Linked DNA regions of Homo sapiens. The protein of the gene in region 2 interacts with the protein of the main gene of each other region in a pairwise test. Each region holds a gene or a part of one and is shown on either strand. Other genes may lie near its edges.

What was found.
Region 1: the proteins of KLHDC7B (region 2) and A1CF interact in binary tests that used the Homo sapiens proteins (3 or more experiments, as listed by UniProt).
Region 3: the proteins of KLHDC7B (region 2) and FNDC3B interact in binary tests that used the Homo sapiens proteins (3 or more experiments, as listed by UniProt).

Annotation. Positions count from the first base shown.
Region 1 is NC_000010.11:50,805,616-50,812,642, forward strand, and holds part of A1CF (APOBEC1 complementation factor), read right to left. Parts: intron 5,562-7,027; coding exon 5,425-5,561; intron 4,428-5,424; coding exon 4,279-4,427; intron 1,266-4,278; coding exon 1,114-1,265; 3' UTR 1-1,113. UniProt on the Homo sapiens protein: Essential component of the apolipoprotein B mRNA editing enzyme complex which is responsible for the postranscriptional editing of a CAA codon for Gln to a UAA codon for stop in APOB mRNA.
Region 2 is NC_000022.11:50,541,619-50,548,914, reverse strand, and holds the start of KLHDC7B (kelch domain-containing protein 7B), read right to left. Parts: upstream 3,017-7,296; 5' UTR 2,672-3,016; coding exon 1-2,671.
Region 3 is NC_000003.12:172,343,563-172,350,589, reverse strand, and holds part of FNDC3B (fibronectin type III domain-containing protein 3B), read right to left. Parts: intron 6,505-7,027; coding exon 6,332-6,504; intron 4,264-6,331; coding exon 4,150-4,263; intron 3,379-4,149; coding exon 3,229-3,378; intron 1-3,228. UniProt on the Homo sapiens protein: May be a positive regulator of adipogenesis.

The sequences.
Region 1 (7,027 bases), on a different chromosome or scaffold from region 2:
CCTGATACTTACTGAAACAAAAAGGAAGGAAAGTTAGAGGATTTCCTGGCAGATTTAAAATAAATGGGTTAGATAATGCAAAGCTAATCCCAAGTTAATATAAGCATCTCTGATTGCTAGATGGTGGGGTGGATACTGCAACAATATCAAAGAAATGAGAGCAAATCTGCACTTCTCTCTTTAAAATGACTTTTCAGTCAATTTGCTGAAAGGAAGAAGTATCATAAATGATATTCTGTATATCTGATTTACTTTTTTATGATATTAGGTAGGAGAAAAATGAGTCTGAGATGATGAAAATCAAGCAATATGAACAAGTCAAAAAATTTTAAAGTAGAAAAGGTCATTTCATGCTGGCATGATTATTGGAAAAGGTAGGAGTTCTAGGGAAAAATAGGTGTGGACTAATGAGCTGAATAAACAATGGGGCCTGGATTTGTTTTAACCACATCTACAACATATCATATCTATTTCTAGGAAGTCCCCATGGGCTGCAGGGGACAGGAAGATCCTGATCTGTGACAAATCGACTGGATGGAATTTTCAGGCTGAAGAGAGGTTGAAACCACAAAATCTTGGACAGTCTTTCATGAGCTCAGGCCTGCAATCATGCCCCACACAGTGAGCCATGGTGAATGCATTTTGAAAAGCAACCTCCTCCCTTCCCTTTTCCTCTTTGTGACTTTGTGTATCACAAAAGCAGCTGTGAGCCAGAGGTAAGACTCTGGAGTTTACTTGGCTTCCCTTGATTATTACTGACTGCCCAGGTCTGCTCCATCCCTCCCAAATCTTGCCAGCTACAAGATCTCTCTTCACCCTGGCAGGATTTGTAAACATACTCCCCAAACACTCAGGAAGACTGGAAGAACAACTTTTGGGGCAGTGGCTCTCCAGCTTTCTGTTAAACAAAAGGCTCTTTAACATTTGATTTCATTTCAGAATAACGTTCTTACTTCATGATTCTATAATTGGTATAAGCTATACAGTCTCTGGAAAGGCATTTCTTTAGGAAACATATTATTTATGATCATTGGGGACCGAGTTAGAGGTTTATTTCTTTTTTTTTTTTAATAGAGTTTTGTGTGTCTTATTCTTAAATTTAAAAAAGCATCTTCAGAAGGTGCCATATCCATCCCCTCGGGCAGTCACTGCAAAAGTTGGGTAGACCTCATAGGTTGTATATGCTGCTAAGTCTTGTCCAAGGGTTACCGCTTGCTTGAGCTGGGCTGCAGACACGGGTGCAGTTGCATTAGGGACAGCATATCCTGGAGGAAGAGGCAGAGAAAACTTGATGAAAGGAATTCACATTTGCTCCCTTTTGGCTTATTTGTCTTCTTTTAGAAATACGAACATTTAACATATTGCTTAAAGCTAAAAGTTAATATATATGTTTTAAAAAGTGTCCTTAAGGACACAATATGTGGACTCAGTGATTTTCAATGATATTTAAACAGTCCTAGGACAATGTTCCCTAAAGTGGGGTCAACCACCTGTGTCAGAATCACTTTATACTTAAGAGAATTAAAGATGCTTGGGATAGGGTCCAAGAAAGAGAAACTTAACAGGATACTGAGTTGATTAAAGCTTGTGATTTTTAGCGTTTTGAGGGTCTCCAAATTTATAAATGAGAAAAGGTGACTGAGGGGCTGGCTGGGCATGGTATGTGGGGAGGTGGGGATCTGTGGGACTGGTTCTCCTGTAACCCCACACCTGCCTAAATGAAACATTTAAAACATTTGCCTTTACCCAAGAAGATGTGTAAAGACTGGGAGATCAGTAGGAGAAATACTGTAAAGGTTAAGTGTGCTTTTCCATAATACCTTAAAAGCAAATGCCTAACCTGTCCATATTTACATGTAACTATGAATGGCAAAAGCACCTTCTTACCTCCCAAGCCCCTCATCAAGCCTGTGCTTGTTGTATTCAGAGGCCTTGATGCTGGTTCTCCGCCTCAGAGAACCAAAGTATCTGAGAATTAAAAAAATAATCTATGCGCTTTCATGTTAGCATTGTGTCTAGTGGATGAGCATTCACTTTTGAAGAAGAGAGCATATTAGCTACTATCTAAAGCATTATTTCTCTGTATTGTTTTAGTTTAAAACCTGAGTATTTCTGAGATTATCCAGAAATTGTAAAAGATAGCAAGAAAAAGAGAGAAGTATACTTAAGTACAAATGGGCACCTATTTTTCATTGTTGTTTTAAACCCCATTTAGTTTATGTGCAGTAGAAGCCTGCCCAACCCCAGACACATTGATTTTTTTCTAGTGGCTTCTCAGAAAGTGGTGGCAGGAAGCTGGTTGGATTATTTTGAACAAAAATTGAATCCACTCTTGGTGCATTCATTTTGGTCAGTAATGCTGATTAATGCACTAGTGAAGTTTGGTCCATTTTCCAAGGATAGGAGACATGTGTTAACAGTTACTTTCATGGTTTTGGAAACAGTATTTCTAAACTAAGTGAGTAATGTAACTGTGTGAGTGTGTGCACACATGCATGCATGTGTTTGTGGCACAGATTTTACCTTTAGGGATTTTGAATTTTCTTTTTCAACTTGGTCAATTTGTTAAGTGCCAGGGTGTTTGGGTTTCAAACTGATTCTTCCCTTGGAGCCTATTATTCTTTGCTTGACTCCACAGCAAAGTTATAAGAGAGGCTCTCAGATTCTTAGGCATTCCCAAGACAACACTCATGCCCTAAATATTTTTAACTTCTCACAGAAGCCAGTGGAAGTGAGAATAAGATAAAACATTCTTGGGTAAAAGCAAATCCTTTCCAATGTGAAAGCAAACTTTAAAATTCTGACAGTGGCTCATTAGTTTAATAGTACATTTGTTAGGTGTCTTTGGGGTGCAGCTTTCTGTAAGACAGGGGCTCAACTTTCTCTAGGAACTGAGAAGCCCTGGCAGGCATCCTGAGTAAATGGACATGTAAACACCCTGTTATGTGGAAAGCAAGCACTGGCTGCTGGCCCCACACTGCCCAGGAAGGACCTTGCCCTCTGCAATGTCAGCTGTTACCTTGGTAACCTCCGAGGGACTCACCACAGAGCATCTCCATGTTCTTACAGAGAAACAAAGCCAGAATTGAGGTCACTTTCAGATGTGAAACATCATTAATGTTAGCCCCACTGGCCAGAATGGAGGATATATTCAAAACTTTTGAGAAAAAAAACCCCAAAACCAAAAAACACTACTGAGAAGGAGCCCCAGGTGCAGTGGGTGTGAGGAATATAAAATTTTTCACACCTACGCATGGCCAATATATGAATTAATTAATCAATAAGAATATCATGTTTCTAGGTCTACTTAGAGCTCTAATTTGGACTTATGTGGCACACGCTGACACAATGAGAAGTAAAAAATGACAGATTTCTTTAATAAAAATAATCTTTTACTAAAAAAAAAAAGGATAAAAAATTTTCAGCTGAGAAAAAATTTCCTAAACAACTTTCTTGCCTGGTCCCCTTCAATCTCTAAAGGATTCAGTTTTAATTATTACCATTTGTTGTGGGTACATAACAAATGGGGACAAATCTTTTAAAATGTGACCTCTGAAGGCATTGTTGATCCACGGATAGGCTTTGCTTTAAGCAATCAGCATATGCCCCAGACCAAAATTATAGAACAAATAAATTGAGTTGAGTCCTGATTATTCACATATTGAAAGGATCTCTGTCTGTCTCTCACTCTCACAAAATTTTTGACTTTAAAAAATCTTTTTTGAAATCAAATTAATAAAAGTAGATTGAAGACTGGAGAGGGAGAAAAGATTGCTGAAAAGCTAATTGCCAGTGGCCAAATTACTTAATCTTTCTGTATATGGGCTCTTCATTTGTATACCAGACTTTCTGATGGAACCTAACTCTTGGTGGTATCATGAGTATTACTAAGATATTATAACGCTTCCTGACCATTTAAGTGAGTGCCTAGCACACAGTAAGATCTCCAATAAACATCATATATCTATAGGTAGTTTCAAACTCTCGTACTAAAAGTAAAAACCAAAACAAACCAGACTCAGAGAGACTGACTCATTCAAGATCACACAGCAGTTTAAAGCTGAGCCGAGACCAGAACCCACTCTGCTGCCCAGCTTGATTTTCTTGCCTCGTGTTTTAATGAGTCACTCATTTGGGAAACTCTTTTTGGTCCCAAGGTTGTGCAAGTCAGATTGCTGTAAGTAGGGTACACAAACATTTCTGTGATTCAATGGTACCAAAAAAGGGTTTCCCAAATACTCTCTGCAGGGCGCCATTTCTGGCACAATTTTCCCATACCTGGGAAAGCAGTAGCAGCAGCAGCAGCAGTAGCCATGGTGCCATCGCCTCCATCAGTGGGGATGCCCAGGGTCTGCAGGGTGTATTCGGCTGCATACGTCTTTGCTTCATCCACAAAGGCACTCAGCTTTGGAGGTGTGAAAGGGTGGCTGGAAAGCAAGTCAGTCAGGGTAGGCATTTTTAAACTGGTACAACTGAGTCAGGTGAAAACTTAAGGCACTATCAGCTTTGTAAGATGACTGGATGGTGGTATTTTGAGTGGGTGTTTTTCATTCTGTTTGCTATTAAAGCTTCTAAATATAGGTTGCATGTAGAAATATTTACAAATTGATCTAGAACATCAGTGGTTGATGACATTCCTGGGACATACAAGTAATTCACTACATGGCTTTTCTAAAGCACAAGTGAAACAAATTGTTCCTAAAATATATAGAAATGCAGGCTCAAGGTAAAATTCAGGAGGTGATATCCACTAACAGAGAGGTCATATCTTTGGTCCAAAATTAAATGATGGGCCATTGTCTTATTATGTATAAAATGGTAGTTTCATATGCTTCAACCTAAACACTGCACAGATGAAAGAATGGGCTATAGCTTTGTTTGTTTGAAATGGAGTCTCACTCTATTGCCCAGGTTGGAGTGCAGTGGTACAATCTAAGCAAACTCCACCTCTCAGGTTCAAGTGATTCTCCTGCCTCAGCCTGCTGAGTAACTATGACTACAGGCGCCTGCTGAGTAACTATGACTACAGGCGCCTGCCTGTACCGGCTACTACATCCGGCTAATTTTTGTATTTTTAGTAGAGACGGGGTTTCACCATGTTGGCCAGGTTGGTCTCAAACTCCCGACCTCAAGTGATCCAGCCAAGAATGGGCTATAGTTTTTATTTCTATTACATTTTACACTACTGACTGTTATCCACTGGCTGGTGATACTACACAACCTTCATTGTGTATATGAAATTTGGGGGCCTTTATATGCTGGTTTCATGGCTGGCACATCCCAACTACACATCTCAATATTTGCATTGAATGACAAATGAGTAGGTAGTAGACCTCAGTATCTTGTTTAGATGGTGACTAAATGCATTTAATTTATAAGTGTATCCTGCTCTAAAATGGTAAGGAATTTGGAGAAGTTACGCACATTGCAGGATTCTGGCTGGCTAGAGCAGGAATAGTTATTTTGTACAAGAATAGCTGTCTTTGGTCTTGTCCAATAGCAGAGTGCAGCTGGTACACTGGCTGTCCCCAGTTATTTTTCTGACAAATCTCTTCTAATATCTACAAGAATAAAAAAAGTTATTTCCCCCTCAAATGACACATTCACATTATTTCCCAAGTTTTCAGGTTTTTAAACTCTAATTTTCAGAGTTCAAGCTAGTATCTGAAGACATAAAATGCCACATGATTTAATGACTCATAAAATTTAAGATGAACTCAATTTGAACTCCATTTAAAATGTTAGGTCTATTAGTTCATAAAATCACTTTCACACCATTTACTGTAATATGTTTTTAGTTTAGTCTATTAGCTGTAACTTTTTACCAAAAGCTTAATTTTATGATTTGTTTGGAATATTTGTTTTTGTAAAAATTGTTGCTCCAACACTGTGTGTATAGATTTGTATAGATTTACTCATTATTACTCTCAATCTCTGTGTTTATAATGGTTTAGAGATGATAGCCTAAGAATATATTTTTATTTCGTGACATTTGTCATAGGGTTTTAATCTCACAATTTCATAAAAATAGAATTAAAAAGTTTAATGCTTGGTATTTATCGAGTGTTCCTAGATGGGTGTTGACAGTTGCAATGTTTTTATTTGTTTGGTAAGACACTATTTCTGCCTTTTTTGTTTGTTTGTTTGTTTTTTTGCTTAATGACAATATGCTTTTTAGCATCCTCCTGCATGTTTTTTCTTCTGTAATTACTCCAAACTGAATATTTTCTAAAGATTCATAGTTTCTTTATTCTGAAGCCATTTTTGGTTGTCCAGAGGTCCTGATGCTCTCGTTAGTCAGCAGATTCAGTAGACTGTGGAAAGCAGGGCATAAGCCTGAGAAAATAACTCTGTAAGACAGAACAATGTCTCAGGATGTGTCTCTGAGGTTTCTTACCTCATTTATGCTAACTAACCCAGCTGCAATAGCATGATATTTTCCAGTTTATTAATTTGTAGATTGTTACTGTTTTTTCTATTGATATTTTCTTTTTAATACTCTTGTTGTGTAGGATCTCTTGTAATCCTCAGAGCATTCTCTACAGTTCTTGGGCAATAATAAAGGAGCTTTTGCTGGTAGATATTATGCCTGCTTGTTTATGCCAGGTGAGCAAACCTGGGCGGAAGGAACACCAGCTCTCACTGCTGACTTTGCAGGAAAGGGCTTGTCTCTCTGCTTCTGGCTGGAAGTTCACAACTCTACTTTGGGATTGTTTAGGCCCCATCTGTGTTGGTTGGTGGTGGCATGGTCTTCATTTCTAAGCCATAGTTGTAGAAGGTCAGACACAAATTAAAGAACTTTTATTAATTGATAGAGATTGTTACTCACATACTAATAAAAGACATGATGAATTTCTAACTTGAGTTTAATGTAAAATGAAGAGATCTCTTTTCATACTATTGCAGCTCTCGGAACTATTATTATACAGAATTTGCGACTATTATTTTTTATTTTCTTAAAATATTTCTAAGTATTCCAGTACTTTAATCAGGTTTTTTGTTTTGGGTTTTAACCTAAGAGAAACTG
Region 2 (7,296 bases):
GGTTGTCGCTCATCAGCGCGTAGGTCTCCTGCGCCAGGCCGGGCTCTCCGTGCTGCTGGGCAAAGGCCAGCACGTCCAGGCAACTGCCCAGGTCCAGCCGCCGCCGCAGGGCTGCCGCCGTGGCGGGCTCCAGGGCCCGGGAGCTGGGCTTCCGGGGCCCCTCCACCACCCCCCAACCCCCGGGCCTCTGCAGAAACACCATGAGCTTCCGGGCCTCCTCCTGCTTTTCCGTGAGCGCCCCGCTGCGGCCGGCAGGGCTGCCCCCCTCCCCCGGCGCCTCCCCTTGAGGGTCCCCCGAGGCGGCCGGCCTGACCTCCTGCTCCGAGCTCGGGGCGATTTCGCACCTGCTGCGTTTCCGTAGCTGGGGTACCGGCTGTGAGCGCCTCGCAGAGGAGGAGGCCGCGGGGCCAGGCGGCCTCTGCGCGGGGGGCTGTGCGGGGCCCCTGGGCATCGCGGCTTGGGGCAGCGGGTCTAGACTTTTCTCCCTGGTTCCCTCTCCTCTTAGGCCTGGGGGAGGGTCTGGGCTGGGCGATCCGTTGGTCTCGGAGCTTCTTGGCTGTGGCTGACCTCCAGCCTCAACCAGGCCCCCTGTACCTGTCCCTATGACTGTCCCCACTGAAGAAGAGGGGCCGTGTCTGTCCTCAGAGTGTGTGGAAGTGCTGGGACCCACGGGGCTCCCGGGAACCGCCCTCGGGACACTCCCTTGGGGCCTGTCTTGCCTGGGGAAGGGGTGGCTTCTAAGAACCATGGCAATAAGGTTTCCCCAGCTGGCTGAGACCTGCCCCTCCTGGTAGCGCCTGGGGAGAGCCACACTCTCCTGAGGCTTTGACCCGTCAGCTGGGGCAGGGGATGCGGCTGGGGTTGGGGTTGGGGCTGAGGTGGGGGCTGGGGCAGGGGATGCGGCTGGGGTTGGGGCTGGAGTTGGAGCTGGGCTTAGGGCTGGGGTTGGGACTGGGGTTAGGGCTGGGGATGCGGCTGGGGTTAGGGCTGGAGTTGGAGCTGGGCTTAGGGCTGGGGTTGGGACTGGGGTTAGGGCTGGGGATGGGGGTGTGAGGGTTGGGACTGGGACTGGGGCTGGGGCTGGAGTTGCGGCTGCAGCTGGACTTGGGGCTGGGGCTGGGGTTGAAGTTGGAGCTGAGGTTGGAGCTGGGGCTGGGGCTGAGGTGGGGGATGAGGTTGAGGTGGTGGCTGAGGTTGGTGCTGAGCTGGGGGATGAAGCCAGGGCTGGGGCTAGGACTGAGGCTGGAGCTGAAGTTAAGACTTGGGCTGAGGCTGAACTTGGGGCTGGCGCCGCTCTGAGATTTTCGCCCACGGAAGGATCCTGGGTAACCTCCAGGGGCAAAAAGTCTGAAGGAGAGGGGAGAGTCAGGGCTTCAGGTGGGAACCCCGGGCCGGGAGCTGCGGGCGGGGAGGCGGAGCGCGGGCGAGGCTCACGGCTCCGGGAGGGCGCGCGGCTGTGGCCGGCTGCAGCCGGCTTTGCTTGCTCCGGGGGCCGGGTGGGCCCCAGGTCAGCGGCAGGACTGTTATCTCGGGAGCTGTCAGCCCCGGCCTCGCCGGCATCGTAGGCCCCTGTGGCACCCGGCCCTTGGGACGAGAGTGGGCGACCTTGAGGCGGACTCTCTAGCCAGGGGCGCGTGGAGTCTGGGGCTGGGCCAAAGCTCCGGGTGCCCGGGACCTCCCTGCTGACCCAGGGCCAGCCTCCTCCGGGGGCAGGGACCCCCGAGGCCTCCCTGCTCCAGCCACCCTTGGCCCCAGAGCCTTCCGTCTGAGACCCAGGCTGCAGGGCGCGGGGAGCGGGCAGCGCCGGGAGTGCGGGCTCCTGGGCGAGTGGGGGTCCTGTGGGGAGGCCGCGCGCGTGGGCGTCCAGGGCGGCGGCCCCGTCCACCGCGTCCCACACGCTCCCCGCGGCGCCCAGGCGGAGCGGGTCCAGTTTCCGGGGGCGGCGGGCTCTGTCTCCCGAGCCAGCGTCCATCCGCCGCCGCCGGCCCCGGCCTCTCCCCATCGAGCCCGAGGGCCCCGCGCCCGCCTGCCAGGGGCCAGTGTCCTGTTGCCCCGCGGGGCCTGCGGCCTGGCGAGAGGACGCCCTGACACCACCTGTCTCCGCCTCCGCTTCGCTGCCAGGGCTCCGAGGAGTGAAGTGGATCAGGAGGGGGGCGGACATCCCCCCTGCTTCGCTCCTGCCCAGGAGGGCAGTGCCTGGCCTGGGAGGCTCCTTTCCTTCCGCTCGGGGGGCCGCGGGGGTGGCACTGCCCCGTTGCTGTCCTAATGCCTCTCTGCGGGCCTCCTCGACAGCCGTCTTGAGTGGAAGCCGGGCCATGGCGGCCAGGCCCCCGCCCGGCGCTGCAGCAGGGACAGGGCTCTGCTGGCCGCGTCCTGGGGGCTCTGGTTTCCCCTGCCCTGGGCTCTGCCCCTCGCTGCCATCACTGACCTTAGACTTCGGTTGCAGGGCCAGCTCAGCTCCTCCTGCCTGATGAGGTTGAGCCCCGAGGGCTGTGGACACCGGTTCTGCCGCCTCTTGATCGTGCCCGGAGCCAAACCAGTGTAAGGCCAGCGCTGTGGCAGCCACCACAGCCAGCGCCAGGAGGGCCAGCACAGCACTATCCCAGTCATTGTCACTGTCCCAGTCCCAGCCCCAGAGGGGACCATCTGGCTCCAAGGTGCCCTGGATCATGGTTCAGGGCTGCAATAGAGGCCTGATGGCAGGCTGGCAGTGCATGCAGAGCACAGAGGCCTGGGCTGAGGCACCGGCCAGCGCCTGCCCCAAGGGCTGCCCAGTTAAGGTGGACCAGTCCTCCAGGGCCTGGGAATGGTGGGGTCTCTGCTTGCACTCAGGCCTGGGGGTGTCAGTAGGGCCTGGCTGCAGATATCAGGAGACAGCGAGGCTTATGGCAGGATAGGAGCCCAGGGTCTCTGCAAGCACCCCACCAGCTCCTGCCCTCTTCTCCTCCTCGTAGGCCCCAGGGTCCTCAGGCAGCGTTCCTGAGCTCTGTGCTGTCATCACAGCCAACCTGCTTCTGCCTGGTAGACCCTCACACCCCTAAATTTATTCCACACCCCACAGTCCCTCCTCTCAGCCTGGGCCCAGCTTCAGGGGGCTTGGCAGGGAAGGGTTACCCACAGGGAGATGTTATCTCTAGCTCTAGCAATGTGATGTGGCCCTGATGAAATCACCAGAAACCGGAGAGGCTGATTCCACTGTGGGCCAGCAGGGGAGGGGTGGGGGCCGTGCACGGGAGGGTGCAGGCTGTGCCTGACGGTGGTCTCTCAGGCTGAAGAGGGAGACCCTGGACACGGGTCCTGGCAGTGAGCATTATCATTGCAGGGGTGCTGTGGAGGTTTGTACTGGGGCACAGGGAGGGGGCATAGAGAGGAGACTGAGGCTCCCATAGCTCCTCCTCCAGCAGCTTTTGGACTCCTTACTCTGGGTTTACCAGACATGGGATAGGGTTATCAAGTCAAGAGAAAAAAAAAATTAATGGGATAAATAAAATCCAAACATATTTCTCTCTTTATGGCCAGGCTTATTTCAGCCCACCTAGACCTTCTAGGATCTCCTGGACCCCCTGCGCCCATCGAGAGTGTCTTGACTGCCCAGATGAGACTCTCACTGTGCCCCTGGAGAACCCTGAGCCCAGCCTGCCCCCTACTCCAGTTACCGCATCAGCCAGCACCTGGATCCCTTAGAAACCACCCCCCTCTGGCCCCAGGTGCTCTAATAGCCAGACTCTGGGTGTCTTCATCTCAGTCCTCAGCCTTCCCTTATCTGAGCTGAGGACTCGCCCTCGAGACCACATCCTGGCTGGTACCTCCTAGCCCTGGCTCAGGCCGGCATGTAGGTACTTCTGTTGGATGTGAGCACTTGCTTCCTGAGGGAGAAGCCTGGGCTCCTCCACCTGCTCCTTGCTTAATCCCATCTCAGGAGTGTCTCGGGCCAGGTGCCAGGTGAGGCTCAGACAAGAAAAAGAGCCTGGAGTCCCTGGGACAAAGGCAGGGCTCCCTGGAAAGTACCGTGTGTATTTTTCCTTCCTCTGGGACACAGCAGGCCTGGGGATTTCTCCCTTACTCAAGCAGCAAGGAGATGGCCTAGGAGTGTCCCTGGCACCCAGCCTGAACCCTACTGAGCCTCAGGTAACTCACCTCCCAGCTCCCCCTGGGACTATTAGATGACAGGGAGAGGGTGAGGGTGGGCCCCATGCCTTAAGGTGGACCTCAAGTTGAGGGAAGGCTTTCTAGACCGTGCCCTTATTCTCTGTCCCAGTCTCAGGCTCTGCCTCTTGGTTAAGTTTGGGGTCCAGAAACCTTCAGAGGATGGAGATGACACCCATAAATATTAGAGACTGAGTAGGGGGCGGGAAGCGGTGGCGGCAGCGCACCCCCGGGGTGCAACTGCCCTGGAACTCCAAGTGGTGGCTTCAAAACTGGATTAAAATTTATTTCCGCGAAACCCTGGAGTCACGGTCCGGCGCCGACTGGCGTTTTCTGCCGTAGACTGAGAACGCGTCAGGGATGGCTCCGTTGGCAGCGCGCGCGAGCGCCCCCGGGCCGCGCCTGGAGGGTTGACAGCGACTCGCGGGCGAACTGTGAACCCGCAGCCCCTGGGCTCCGAGCGCAAACCTGGCGACTGGGAGGGCCCGGGGAGCGGGTGAGCCAGCGCCAGCCCCGCCGGCCCCAGGAGCGCGAATTTCTCTACATTTCCGGCTGTGGCCGCAGTTGGAGGATGGGATCAAAACGGGCAAAAAAGTGCGACCTGGGCCGAGGTGTCGGATCGCCTCGAGGTGGGAGGCCGAGGTGTTGGATCGCCTGAGGTCAGCAGTTCGAGACCAGCCTGGCCGACAGGGAGAAACCCTGTCTTTACCGAAAATAGAAAAATTAGCCGGGCGTGGTGGCGGGCGCCTGTAATCCCAGCTACTCCAGAGGCTGAGGCAGGAGAATCGCTTGAACCCGGGGAGTTGCAGTGAGCCGAGATCGCGCCACTGCACTCCAGCCTGGGTGACAGAGCCAGACTCCATCTCAAAAAAAAGAAAAAAAGACACCAGCAAAGGGTTTTTTTCTGTTAATAACTAGGTCCCCCCAACCCCCCAAAAAGGAGGATGGTTAAAAGCAGAAAAGGCAAAAAATAAAGGCTTTTGGCCGGGCGTGGTGGCTCACACCTGTAATCTCAGCACTTTGGGAGGCCGAGGCAGGCAGATCACCTGAGGTCAGGCGTTCAAGACCAGCCTGGCCAACATGGTGAAACCCCTGCTCTACTTTAAAAAAAAAAAAAAATTAGTGGGGCATGGTGCCGGACACCTGTAATACTAGCCACTCAGAAGGCTGAGGCAGGAGAATCGCTTGAACCCGGGAGGCGGAGGTTTCAGTGAGCCGAGATCGCACCGCCACACTCCAGCCTGGGCGACAGAGCGAGACTCTGTCTTAAAAAATAAAATAAATAAACTCTTTTATATTTCAAAATCTGAAGACAAATCACTGTAGTGCAGATAAAATAAAACGTTCATATCATTTTATTATTTTAACGTGTTTCATATTATTTTAACGTGTGACATTAAACAATTTCAGGGCCGGGCGCGGTGGCTCAAGCCTGTAATCCCAGCACTGTGGGAGGCCGAGACGGGCGGATCACGAGGTCAGGAGATCGAGACCATCCTGGCTAACACGGTGAAACCCCATCTCTACTAAGAATACAAAAAAATTAGCCGGGCGCGGTGGCGGGCACCTGTAGTCCCAGCTACTCGGGAGGCTGAGGCAGGAGAATGGCGTGAACGCGGGAGGCGGAGGTTTCAGTGAGCCGAGATCGCGCCACTGCACTCCAGCCTGGGCGACAGAGCGAGACTCTGTCTCAAAAAATAAAATAAATAAAATAAAGTCTGTTATATTTCAAAATCTGAAGACAAATCACTGTAGTTCAGACAAAACCTTCATACCATTTTATTATTTAACGTGTTTCATATTATTTTAACGTGTGACATGAAACAATTTCAGGAAATTGTATTAGGTATTGCGCTCGTGTCTTCTTAGGCGTCCTCATCCCTTTTCACCTCGGAGCTCAGCGTCTTCCTCAGCAGCACTTCCATGTCATCTGCCCCGTGAAATCAGCCTAACGCCGTTTCTCAATGACGTGGATCGCCCTAGGCCACCGCAACCTTCCGGAAGCTCTCTCAGCTCAGTTCCCATTCTCCCACCATCTCTTGGTTCTCCTTCTACCTCACCGGTTGCTAGTCCTCCGCTTCGCAGCTGAAAATGTGCCCGGGGCCTACTGTGGGCCTAGCCAGGCCTGCTTACGCAGTGCAGTTTCCCATGAATGATGCCCAGTCATTATCACATAACCTGTGGCAAGCCAGCAAGATGGCCCTGGTGACAGCAAAAGAAACTGCACTAGGACCTGAATGTAGATCTCAGTCATGTTCCTTACTAACAGCACGTTTTGCAACCATGCGTTAAAGAAACATCTGACTCACAACAAAATTTTAAAGGGTTTATTTGAGTGAAAAGCAATTTATGAATTGGGGAACACCTGACTGAAAGAGCGTTAGTATTCCAGAGACAAAACATCAAGTGCAAGTTTTTATTGGGAAAATGTAGAAGCACAATAAAGAAATTATTTGATTGGTTACAGTTATAGAGTTGCTTTCTTTGGCTTATCCTGTTGGAAAGTCAGTAGTTATATAATCATGATAGTTGGTTACTTATGATTGGGTAGATTAAAATTTATCTCTGTCTAATGGAAGCATTTATCAGAAACAACTCAGCCAGGCATGGTGGCTCACGCCTATAATCCCAGCACTTTGGGTGGGAGGCTGAGGTGGGCAGATCACCTGAGGTCAGGAGTTCAAGACCAGCCTGGTCAACATAGTGAAACCCCATCTTTACAAAAATACAAAAATTAGCTGGGCATGATGGCAAGTGCCTGTAATCCCAGCTACTCGGGAGGGTGAGGTGGGAGAATTGCTTGAACCCGGTAGGCAGAAGTTGCAGTGAGCCAAGATTGCGCCATTGCACTCCAGCCTGGGCAACAGAGAAGACTCTGTCTCAAAAAAGAAAAAAAAGAAATGACTCATGCCTGTAATCCCAGCACTTTGGGTGTGAGGCCGAGGCAGGGCAGATGACTAGTCTTTGAGACCAGCCTGGGCAACATAGCAAGACCTTGTCTCTACTGAAAAACAAACAAACAAAATAATGGCTCAAGTTAAGTTTCACTTATGTTTTCAATTTAAGCAAGGCTGAAGTCACTTACGAGACCTAACTTGTTTTGTCTGCTTAGGGATTCTTCAGGCCCGGTCTCCATTTTAGTTTACTTAA
Region 3 (7,027 bases), on a different chromosome or scaffold from region 2:
ACATTTTGTCATACCCACTTCTGTTTCATTACAATACCTCAATACCTCAACTCTCTTTCTGGAAAAATTTTAACATGACAAATTATTTTATAAGTATGTATTTCGAGATTTTGGTACTGATATAAATGTATCACAGGGGCAGAAAAATAGGATATCATGGAGCCCAATGTTTCTATCAACTAGGGCTTTGTATCACCATATCACAGAAGGACAAGAACATGGCTTTTAAGAGTTGAAGCTTAGTTCAAACCTTGATTCCATCATTTAACAACTGTGTGATCTTAGGTTAGTTAATTTCTCTGAGCTTGTTTCCTCAGCTGTAAAATGGGGACAGTAATGCCTAATTCATAGAATTACAGTAAAGATTAAATCGGTTAATATGTAAAATGCTGGCAGAGTATCAGGCCAACAGTAGGAGCTACACTTTCTTCCTTCCCACTGGGAAAATTATGAACAAAATAGTATTTTCTCTATTTTTTCAAACACCTTTTTATTGTGTACTACTTTTATACTTACAGAAAAGTTGCAAAAATAGTACAGAGAAATTTCTGTCTATCTCCTACTCTGCTTTTCCGAAGAGAAACATGTTACAGAACTATAGAATAATGATCAAAACCAGGAAATTATCACTGGTGGCCGGGCACGGTGGCTCACACCTGGAATCCCAGCACTTTGCGAGGCTGAGGCGGGTGGATCATCTGAGGTCGGGAGTTCGAGACCAGCCTGGCCAACCTGGTGAAACCCCATCTCTACTAAAAATACAAAAATTAGTCAGGCGTGGTGGCAGGCGCCTGTAATCCCGGCTACTCGGGAGGCTGAGACAGGAGAATCGCTTGAACCTGTGAAGCGGAGGTTGCAGTGAGCCAAGATCGCGCCACTGCACTCCAGCCTGGGTGACAGAGCGTGACTCCATCTCAAAAAAAAGAAAAAAAAGAAAAGAAAAACATTATCACTGATACTATACTATTAACATACAGACCTAATCAGAATCTTACCAATTCTTCCAATGTTCTTTTTCTACTGCAGGATCCTACTTTCTTTTTAACTAGCTTGGCTCTATGGAAAACATTTCTTGATTTACACCACTTTTTATTAACAGTTTTCAAATGAAATTTAATTCAAAATCAACTTTTTGTAAATAATAGTATGCCTATAATATACAACATGCCCTATGAATGGAATTACGTTGGTACTTAATTAAAACAGTCCTGAAAATACAAAAATTCAAAAATTCCTGAGCAAAACAAGAAATGTTCCACCACATTTCTATAAAACACAGTACAGGTATTATAATAAATTTTTATTTTTTTGAGACAGGCTCTCACTCTGTCGCCCACGCTGGCCTACAGTGGTGCAGTCACAGGTCACTACAGCCTTGACCTGGCTCAAGTGATCCTCCTGCCTCAGGCTCCTGAGCAGCTGGGACTACAGATGCCTGGCTAATTTTTGTATTTTTTTTTTTTGTAGAGGAGGGGTTTTGTTATGTTGTCCAGGCTAGTCTCTATCTCCTGGCTCAAGAGATCAGCCGGCCTCAGCCTCCTACAGTGCTGGGATTACAAGTGTGAGCCCCCATGCCCGGCCAATATTTAAATTCTTAAGTGCCATATATTCAAAAAATATTGGGGTTTAACTTGACTTTGTAATCATGTTGAATGAAAATAATTCATATTTGGTCCACAAATAACAATAAATTGGTATAGTTTGAACAGACCCCCTTCCTGGCAATAGTCCTTTAGTGTGGCAATGGTAATCTTAAAAGTAGTACTCCCTTCATAAGATCTGACTCATTTTATTATAAATAAGCACAGACCTTTGAAAATATATTTCTACTCCTGTTAATACAACGAGGCAAGATTATGCAGGTACTATTCTTATTAATGTATCTTTTATAATGCAGCTTTGGGAAGTCAATGCTAAGACAACATAGACTCTGAAAGAGAAGGAGATATAATAACATTTTAAAGAAACACCAAAACTCAAAAACCATAATGGAGTGAAGCTCTTTACTGGGGTGGCAGACAGCTCTTTATTTATATCCTGCCTTGGTAGAAAAACAAGAGTGTGGCACATAATTTAACCTTTCCCCAGTGACTCAGCATCACTATTATAAATATCAGACAATTTGCTGTGACACTGACTCATTGTCAAAAGGTTAATTATGTCCCAGGTGCTTCATTCGAGAAGCAAGAAAGGTGTATAACAAAAGAGTTTAATCAGAAATGTTTCAAATACAGCAGACTTCTGAATTTAACAGAAATGCTTCAGTTGATCTGAAAAATTAAGTTATGAAGCGAATATTTTCTCCAAAGAGACCAGAGACATTGGGTGTACTTATAATAACGAATTTGATCCATGACTTAAATCAGGTGGGAACTTGACTTTGGCATCTTTGCTTCTTTATCTATTCAAATCTAAATGTGTATGAAGACAGAGCTCTTCAAGGTCAACAACCACATCTGATTAATCTTTGTATCTCTCTTCCTGATCTTCCTTTGATCCTGGTACAAAGTACTATAATGCTCAAGAAATGTTACTGAACAAATGGAAAGAGGAGGACAAAGAACTCTATTTTCTCAAGAGACTAAGGCTTTACACAGAAAAAATAATAATATAGCCAAGAGAGTAAAATAAAAGTAAACCCATGGTTATTGTCACTCTGAGGGGTTAGGCTATGAACCAATTTTTCTTGATGTTATTCTATCTGGACTCCCAAGTGGAAGCTTATAGATAACCAGCCTTGATAACCGTCACTGGGAGGTGGGAGGTGGGGTCCTGTAATCTAATGCAGACTAGTCCAGATTATTTTTGGCTCCATTTAACAGCTCGTAAAATAATTTTCTGTCTTTTACCAGTTCTAAGAGTCTTTCCCACTGAAATGTACATCTCAGGGGAATGAGACAGAAGGCTCCTTCCCTAAGGAGCTGTGTCATCTTTCCCTTGGACTTGGGTCATTTATTCAGCAAACTGATGAACAGACAAGATACAAGGGTGGTGAGAAGCAGAATGGAGAAGAATCTTATTTTGTTCTTAAGTTTCAGAATTTCCTAGAGAAGTGGAAATTAACTGCAAAACACCAAAACAACCAAATATATTTTTATTTAAATGGACTCTTTTTTTCCATATCATCCCTCCTGACAGCCTCCACCACAAGCCTTTGAGTGGGTTTCCCAAAGTGCCTTTCATGGGACAGCAGTCCTTGTGAGTAACATCTGAATAATGTCAACCTACCTGTAGTCTACAGCAATACTGTGCAGCAGGCAACAGGTCTCTTATTTCAAAACGGGTGTCTGTCCCATGATAAATGAGTTCTAAGGATTCTTCATCTTCTCCCCATTCCAACCTGTACTCTGAGATGTCAGCACCAGAACTATCAGGACTCTGGAAAGGCAGAAATGGAAGTAGTTAATAATGCCACTGAGAAGAGAATCCTACTGTGCTTGTATTCAATTAACTAAAATGGGAAAGAGAGCAACATGCCCCAGAATATTTCAAATACATATAAAAGAAAGGCACGATCACAAATATATATACCTACTATGTACCCACAAAATTTTTTTTGAGATTTAGAAATTTAAAAATAAAATAGGGCCAGGTGCGGCGGCTCATGCCTGTAATCCCAGCACTTTGGGAGGCTGAGGTGGGTGGATTGCCTAAGATAAGGAGTTCGAGACCAGCCTGGCCAACACAGTGAAACCCTATCTCTACTAAAAGTACAAAAACTAGCCAGGCATGGTGGTGGGCACCTGTAATCCCAGCTACTCAGGAGGCTGAGGCAGGAGAATCACTTGAACCAGGGAGGCAGAGGTTGCAGTGAGCCGAGATTGTGCCACTGCCCTCCAGCCTGGGTGACAAGATTGAAACTCTGTCACACAAAAAAATAAAATAAGTAAAATAAAATAAAATTTTTTACAAAAAGAAAGGCATGAGAAACCATTTCCTCTCAGTTTTGACTACAGTAAAACTTCCACAACCCTAAATAATATAAGCAAGTGGCAAGTGCCAAGGGTGATTACTATAGTACACAGAGCAAAAAAAAAAAAAAAATCATCTATATGTGCATTTTGGATTTGCAGCTTCCTTATAATTGGTATTTGTATTTGGGAGTAAAGTAGAAGAAACAGAAGTTGATGCAGAATATGCCTGACTTACCTCCCAACCCACTAAGACACATCCATCAGGTGTACAAGAAATACAAGGTGCTTTGCATTGTCCAGGAGGCCCTGCAGCAGTGGTAATTTCTGAGACATCAGAATAGGGACCATACTGAAAGAAAACACACGCACACACACGTATGTATATATGCGTGTATGTGTTTGTGAATGTGTGTGCATACAAAAGCTTATAACCAAATAAAAGCTAGGCTAACATCATCATCAACACAACTAATTAACAAATATTACCCAATGATTTTCACTTTCAATTCAATGTGTGTAAGTTTTTCTCCTATATACAGTCCCTGAGTAGTAGATGTCTGTCATTTTTTTAATTGTAAAATAATTAGTTGGTTGACAAAATATTTTCCCTTTCTTGGGACATGAAATAAAAATATGCTGATTTTTGACAAAACAGGGCAATCTGCTTTCATATTTCTCAGAGGACATCCAAGAAAACTAAGTCAGATGCCCACTGCAGTTTAATTTTTAATGAATAAAAATATACTTGGAATTGTTGGTGATCAAATTCTAGGTATTTCTTCTAGTTACCGGTATTTTCCATTTTGAAAATAAATGCTTCTGTAATGTTTTCTCAGTGTGTTCCCATCACCTCACCTATTCAAGGGTATCCACGGCAATCCTGATGTTACCATCAGTGACCACACTGCTCAGAGCCAGGAATTGCTAGAGACTTACCACACTTTGAGAGAGTCACAGCCACCTGAACCACCCATTTTAATGGTGGCATATTTGATACTTCAAAGGTTTGGAGCAGAGTAAAAACTTGCCAGGCTAACAAAATATATGACTGTCCTTGTCAAAATGAGAGAAAAAAGACGGCGGGGAGGGGGGAAACAAAAAACCACCTCTCAACATAACATGCAAAGATGCTGGGGAGTTGGGGAAGCTCTCTGAAATGGACCTCAGAAGGTGACTACAGCGATATATATGGTTAATTTCTAATACAACAGGAATAAACCCAAGCTGAAGATAGTTTCTTTATAGGATAAATCAGTGAAAGGGCTGAGAAAAGTACAGCTCACACCAGCCCAGTTGCACATTTATCTTTGTTGTGGCAGATAGTAACTGAAAAGTTGATGAGAGAATGGGGTAGACACAACAGTGTGCTCATCACTATCCATCTTCTTTTCGCTTACATGATTATAAGTTCAGGTACATAGGCGTTAATGTTCAGACTTTTTTGTTTTCACTTAAGTATCATTGTTGTGTCTGAAATTCTTTTCTATTGGAGAATTAGGAGAAATCCAGTTTTGGGCACTCTGCCTAAGGAATAGCCCTTCTTTTATTCCTTTACTTTCTTAATAAACTTGCTTTCACTTAAAACAAAAAGTCACTGCAAGTTGGGCTGTCTTATTTTTTTAAAAAATCATCAATTAATTAATTCTATTTATTTGCATGGAGCCCATCTACACAAACCACTGGCACTTTGGACGGGGCATTTAGCTGGCTTTACCCACACGCTTCTGCCCTTTTATGCTTCATCAATCTCTGAGCCCACCCAAAAGCCTCACAGTTACTGGGACTCCCACTGCTCATTATTCATCTCCCCCTAAATCCACATCATTTGGCAATTTCAAAGAAAAAAAGGACAACAACCTTTATGGATATAACATAGACATATATATTCTCAATTTTTGATAGCTCAACTTGACAACTCCAAATGGAGCAATAGAAGGAGAGAGTCCTGTAGTTTTCACGTGAAACAAAACAAAAACAAGCTGGTGTCCCTGGCCACTACCCTTCTCTAGTTGTAAAAACTGACCTAAGATGTTGCTGGTTCATTTAGACAAGACAGTATAAAACTTTTATTAGAACTATTATCTAATCCTAATTTCCCTGAACTGATAAAGTCAATAGAATAGGAAATTTTCCAAAAACTGTCGAAAATATCTACAGGGTGATATCCTTATTAACCTTGAGTGCTGTCTTCATAGAATGATATGAGGACAAAAGAAACAGAAAACTTCTAATGCTGGGTCTATATGAAATCACAACAATATCAACTCAGAATTAAGATTTACAGACACTGCATTAATGGTTGTCAAGGTTGCATCAAGACTGTCAAAAATTTCAGGAGGCTAGAGACAGAAGTGCTAGCACTTTGGGTTCTGATTATGCATTCTGATTCTGGTTATGGTGTATGGGCTTATACTCACCCCTCCATCATTCAGAGCCCTCACCCGGAAGCGATACACGGTTCCAGGAAGCAGGTTGCCGACGGTGCACTCCAGCTCTGGGCCATGGTACACTTCCGAGGCTACGTCTTCGGGCTCCGTCATCTCCACGCTGTACTCTGAGACCTCACAGCCACTTTCCGATGCAGGAACATCTGGGAATGAAGAATTTTTTTCATCTTAGAACACTTTGTGCTTCCAGTTGACCAAAGTGCACCAGATTTCACACAAGTTGAGCAAAATATCACATAGGTGGCCGGCCTCAGTATCTCCCTTACAAAAGAATCCATGCCCACCAAAAAAGAGATATAAAAATAAAAGTTTCTGAATGATGTTATCCATACTCTCCAAAGCGGGTCCACTGAAGTTTATTTAATTACATTGATAAAATAATCCCAAAATTATAGGAACATTAGATATATTTCTTCATATTCTAATGCTAGGTAAATGGAAGAAAAAGAGGGAAGAAAAATCTCTTTAATTGGAAACCAAAGGTCATGCTAAATCAAAATACAGGACCCCAAATTGGCACAATTTATTATACTTTAGACATAAGTGGTAGGAAAAAATAGTCTGCTAGAGAGTTCTGTACATTTGTACTTGTAATTATACATGTTGTAAACTGCTGGACACAACAGGAAACGCTAATACAGCTTAAATCAATGCTGTAAAAACATC